Linked DNA regions of Homo sapiens: region 1 is linked to region 2. Evidence: fine-mapped expression QTL. A gene starts in region 2. The other region holds a variant in brackets. All regions are shown on one strand. Distances are from middle to middle. Region 1 overlaps UBOX5 (U-box domain containing 5). Region 2 holds the start of FASTKD5 (FAST kinase domains 5).

Region 1 (2,500 bases), 46 kb before region 2:
GATCTCAGAGGCCCAGAGCCCCAGGGGCAGTTTCAGTGACAGAAAAAAAAAAAAAAAAATCATCAAGGAAAAGACAATTATTGTGCCCTGGGCAGGATGGAAACCCAAGTATATAACTGCAAACTGAGGTGACAGAGAGGATAAAAAAGAGGGCTTGCTTTGAAAAGGGTGGGCTAACATGGCCTCCTGTAGGAAGAGCTGTGAGAATAAAAAGGGGCCAGCCACACAGAATGAAAGGAGAGCAAGCACAAAGAACAGCCTATCCGTTAAAGAAAAAGACACAGTGGTCGGGCACGGTGGCTCACACCTGTAATCCCAGTGTAATCCCAGCACTCTGGGAGGCCGAGGTGGGTGGATCACCTGAGGTCAGGAGTTCGAGACCAGCCTGACCAACATAGCGAAACCCCGTTTCTAACTAAAAATACAAAAATTAGCCGGGCGTGGTGGCGGGCGCCTGTAGCCCCAGCTACTCAGAAGGCTGAGACAGGAGGATTGCTTGAACCAGGGAGAAAGAGGTTGCAGTGAGCCAGGATTGTGCCACTGCACTCCAGCCTGGGCGACAGAGCGAGACTCCATCTCAAAAAGAAAAGAAAAAGACACAGTGAAGCTGGGTGCAGAGGCTCACACCTGTAATCCCAGCACTTTGGGAAGCTGAGGCAGGTAGATCACCTGAGGTCAGGAGTTCGAGACCAGCCTGGCCAACATGGCGAAACGCTGTCTCTACTAAATATACAAAAAAAAAAAAAAAAAATTAGCTGGGCTTGGTGGCGTTTGCCTGTAATCCCAGCTACTAGTGGGGGCTGAGACAGGAAGATTGCTTGAACCCAGGAAGTGGAGGTTGCAGTGAGCCGAGATTGCGCCATTGTACTCTAGCCCGGGCAACAGAGCGAAACAGAGCAAGACTCTGTCTCAAAAAAAAAAAAAAAAAAAAGACACAGTGAGAGTGGGCTTCAGATAAGACTGCAGAGGAGGAGACATGGGGGCTCCAGCAGGCAGGACCTCAGAGGGAGTAGGAGTTGAGGTTTTATCCTAAGTTCAGGGGATGCCATGGTAGGATTTGAAGAAGTGGAGCATGGTGATGGGCTGACATGATAAAAAGATCCAACTGCTATGAGTATGATGAGCCACAGTAAGGCGAGGAT[G/T]GGGGGATACCAGCAGGGGCTACTGCAGGAGTCTGGGAGTGAGGCAGTGGGAGCTGCAGCCAGGGGAGGGGCCACAGAAGGAGAGCAGGGGACTAACCTGAGGTCACCTTGGGGGAGGATGGACAGGACCTGATAATGAACAGAATGTCAGGATGGGGACACTGAAGGAACTCGAGAATGACTTCTGTGTTAGAAGCCTCACCACAAGACAGAAGATGCTGCCCTTACCCAGGTAGGATGATGGGGGCAGTGAGGGGGAAAAGCTCTGGAGGGCAGATGTGAGCAGTACAGAGTCTGAATGTTTCCTTTAGAGAGGATGCTGAGCCTGGCCATGATGGCTCATGCCTGTATTCCCAGCACTTTGGGAGGCCGAGGCAGATGGATCACCTGAGGTCAGGAGTTCAAAACCAGCCTGGCCAACATGGTGAAACCCCATCTCTACTAAAAATACAAAAATTAGCTGGGCGTGGTGGCGGGTGCCTGTAATCCCAGCTACTTGGGAGGCTGAGGCAGGAGAATCACTTGAACCTAGGAGGCGGAAGTTGCAGTGAGCTGAAATCGCGCCATCGCACTCCAGCTAGGGCAACAGGGGCAAGACTCCATCTTAAAAAAAGAAAAAAGAGAGAGGATGTTGAGTGCTGTCAGGGCGGCAGGATGAGTTCCAAGGAGAAGCAGGAGCTACAGGGGAACATGGACAGTTGCCGGAGATGTGAGTTTTCACTTGGGTAACAGAGAATATTGAGATTAGAGAGTCCAGGGCCAGAGCTGGTAGAGAAGGCAATTGGCAATGGAAACTGAAGAGGGACCACCGAAGATAGGAGAAAAGAAGCAAAACAGCCTAAAAGCCAAGAGAGAAGGCGTTTCGCACAGCAGGAGCTCCATCTCGTAAAAAATGCCTCCCGTTGCAATCAGTTTCTGTTGCTTTGTATCCTAATAGATTCTGGCATACAATGGGGGTCAAGGTTCATTTTAGGCAAAATTGGCCCATAAGCTGCCACTGCTCTTTCTAAGACACTGACGGAAGTGTTAATCTGAAGGGATGAGGACGACAAACCCAACCAAACCTCTCTTCACATTTACATAAAGTGCCCCGGATGTCAGACTGCAGACTGGCTAGATGAGAAAAAAATAACAAAAAAGGCCAGGCGCGGTGGCTCACTCCTGTAATCTCAGCGCTTTGCGAGGCCGAGGCGGGCGGATCACGAGGTCGGGAGTTCGAGACCAGCCTGGCAACATGGTGAAACCCCGTCTCTACTAAAAATACAAAAAATTAGCCGGGCATGGTGGCGGGCGCCTGTAATCCCAGCTACTCAGGAGGCTGAGGCAGGAGAATAGCTTGAATCCAGGAGGCGGAGGTT
Region 2 (3,012 bases):
TATGCAGCACAGAGTCTTCAGATTTTATTTACTTATTTATTTATTTATTTATTCATTTATTTGAGACGGACTCTCGCTCTCTCGCCCAGGCTGGAGTGCAGTGGCGCGATCTCGGCTCACTGCACACTCCGCCTCCCGGGGTTCACGCCACGCTCCTGCCTCAGCCTCCAGAGTAGCTGGGACTACAGGCGCCCGCCACCACGCCCAGCTATTTTTTTGTATTTTTAGTAGAGACGGGGTTTCACCATATTAGCCAAGATGGTCTCGATCTCCTGACCTCGTGATCCGCCCGCCTTGACCTCCCAAAGTGCTGGGATTACAGGCGTGAGCCACTGTGTCCGGCCCAGATTTTATTTTAGTCTACCAGGTAGTAGCAAACTATCCAAGGACTTGCCCAGGACCATTCAGGTCAGTGAGCTACAGAATCTAGTTCTGGAAAGGCAGCCATTCTTACTATTCACAAAGTGTAGAAAACGTGAATTCAGATTCCAGCAGCAACAAATGACTGGAGCACAAAACGCCAGCCACAGTTGGTGCTAACGCAGCTGGCTATCAGCTCCACAGGATGAAGCACTGTCCAAGGGTCTGATCAGTGAAGCATCACCCAAGACTGATGAACACAGCTGATATGAGGGGACCCAAAGTTCCCTGAGTCAAGACAGAAGAGCTGTGTCACGGTTTGCACAGAAAGAGAAAGAGCAACTATTCTTACCCACGGAAAGAAAAAGGGAGAAGGCCATCAATACTACCCTTAGGCTTGTGCAACGAGAAACTGCTAAAAATGGGGGGAAGGTATATATCCTATCATACTGATGTTTACCGAAGACTCCGCATCCCAAATGCTAAGCAACATACTGTAGGGCCTTGCTACTCAGTGTGTGGTCTGCGTGCCAGAGGCTTCAGCCTCGTCTGGAATCTAGTTAGGAACACAGTTATCTCAGAACCCACCCCAGTCCTACAGAATCAGAATCTCTAAGCGATTCGCAGGCACATCAAAGTGTGATGAGAGGCGCGGCAGAATATCTGACTACATTCTCTTAACAGCACCGTGAGACAAGTACTGTTACGATCTCCATTTCACAGAGGAAAAAAAATCAAGGGTCAGATAAGCCCCCTGCCAAAGATCACAAACTCAGGAGCGGCGAGAGTCACTGAAGTTCTCACCACAGCCAGGCCTGCGAGAGGCACTGGCAACCCAGGCCAAGAGCTGAACAAGGCCTCGATGCGCTCCAGCTCTGGGCCGGCCGGGAGGACAGGAGGCACAGGCCAAGGCCCAGGACGGTCGTGAACGCGGAAAGAGGCCGCCGCGACCTCCTCCCCGGCCGCCGCCACTCACCTGATCCTCCCGAAGGTGGGCGCCGCAACACCAAACCGGGGACGCCGCGGGCGGCGGCGACACAGATACTGGCTCCTCCGGCGACTCCGAGCCTCACAGCCCCACTTCCGGCCAACTGCCCGCTACTTCCGCCTGCTGCGCGAGTGACGGATGCGGCCGAGGCTCAAAAGACTCTGTCAGCGTTTCCCAAGGACATTTTCCACTGGAGGACGTTGTTGAGGAGGCAGGGGGAGTCTAGGACCTGCAGAGGGAAAACACCTTCCTGGATGGATCGCTCTGGAAGTCATTAAGCAGCTTAGTCCCGGCGCGGTGGCTCACGCCTGTAATCCCAGTACTTTGGGAGGCCAAGGCGGGCGGATCACCTGAGTTCAGGAGTTCGAGACCAGCCTGGCTAACGTGGTGAAACCCCCGTCTCTACTAAAAATACAAAAATTAGCCGGGCGTGGTGGCGCACGCCTATAATCCAGCTATTCAGGAAGCGGAAGCAGGAGAGTCGCTTGAACCCGGGAGGCGGAGGTTGCAGTGAGCCGATATCTCGCCACTGTACTCCAGTCTGGGCACCCCTGTACTCCAGCTCTGGGACACAGAGCGAGACTCCATCTAAAAAAAAAAAAAAAAAAAAAAAAGTAAGTAGCTTAGACACATGTTCAAATCTGAGGACCACCACTCAGGGTTTTATGGCCTTGGAGAAGTCACATAAATTCATTCTTGTTATATTATTATTATTATTTTCATAGAGACGGGGATGGCAGTGTCTTCCTATGTTGCCCAGGCTAGTCTCGAACTCCTGGGCTCATGCAATACTGCCGCCTCAGCCTCCGAAAGTACTGGGATTACAGGTATGAGCCATCGCACCCGGCCCACATAAATTCTCTAAGCCTGTACAGTGAGAAAAACAATACATTTTTTTTTTTTTTGAGACAAAGTCTTGCCCCATTGCCCAGGCTGGGGTGCAATGGTGCAATCATGGCTCACTGCAGCCTCAACCTCCTGGGTTCAAGTGATCCTCCTGCCTCAGCCTCCTGAGTAGCTAAGACCACAGGCATGCACCACCACACCTGTCTAATTTTAACAATGCATTGGTCGGGTGTGGTGGCTCACACCTGTAATCCCCGGTGTTGGAGACCGGCCTGGCCAACATGGTGAAACCTCGTCTCTACTAAAAATACAAAAAAAAATTAGCGGGGCATGGTGGCGTGCACCTGTAACCCCAGCTACTTGGGAGGCTAAGGCAGGAGAATCACTTGAACGCAGGAGGTAGAGGTTGCAGTGAGCCGAGATTGCACCACTGCACTCCAGCCGGGGCAACAGTGAGACTCCATCTTTTTTTTTTTTTAATGCATTTATAATAGAGATGTATCTGTAAAGTGCTCTCAGGAAAAGAGCTAGTGACATGATGGATAGATGAGCCTGCTGAGAGAAATGGATGTGGAGCTGGGGCTTAGCGAGGCCAGAGCTATGGAGCATGAGCCAGGGTGATTCTCCACCACCCTAAGAAGGAGGGCTGGGTCCTACTGGGTACATATATTGACACAGCTGTCAGTATAGGTACCTAGACAAGAAAGAGACTCTACTAAACCTCTACCTATCAGAAAGTCCTGGCCCCAGGCTGCCATTCCTGAGGGCACTTGAGATCTGCTGATCAGGGTCTTCATATCTTGTCAATGCCTTGGCTC

The links.
Region 1: its variant is fine-mapped to the expression of FASTKD5 in whole blood (INTERVAL, PIP above 0.99).

The regions. Positions count from the first base shown.
Region 1 is chr20:3,112,387-3,114,886 of GRCh38, forward strand. All of the region lies in intron 4 of UBOX5 (U-box domain containing 5), which reads right to left. All of the region lies in intron 5 of UBOX5-AS1 (UBOX5 antisense RNA 1), which reads left to right. Among named protein-coding and RNA genes, the nearest start is that of UBOX5-AS1, 6.7 kb to the left of the region's middle. The variant G/T (reference allele first, on the strand shown) is at 1,143.
Region 2 is chr20:3,158,430-3,161,441 of GRCh38, forward strand. It overlaps FASTKD5 (FAST kinase domains 5), which reads right to left and starts at 1,436. Exons shown (of 2, transcript NM_021826.5): 1 at 1,337-1,436. It overlaps UBOX5 (U-box domain containing 5), which reads right to left and starts at 1,436. Exons shown (of 5, transcript NM_014948.4): 1 at 1,337-1,436.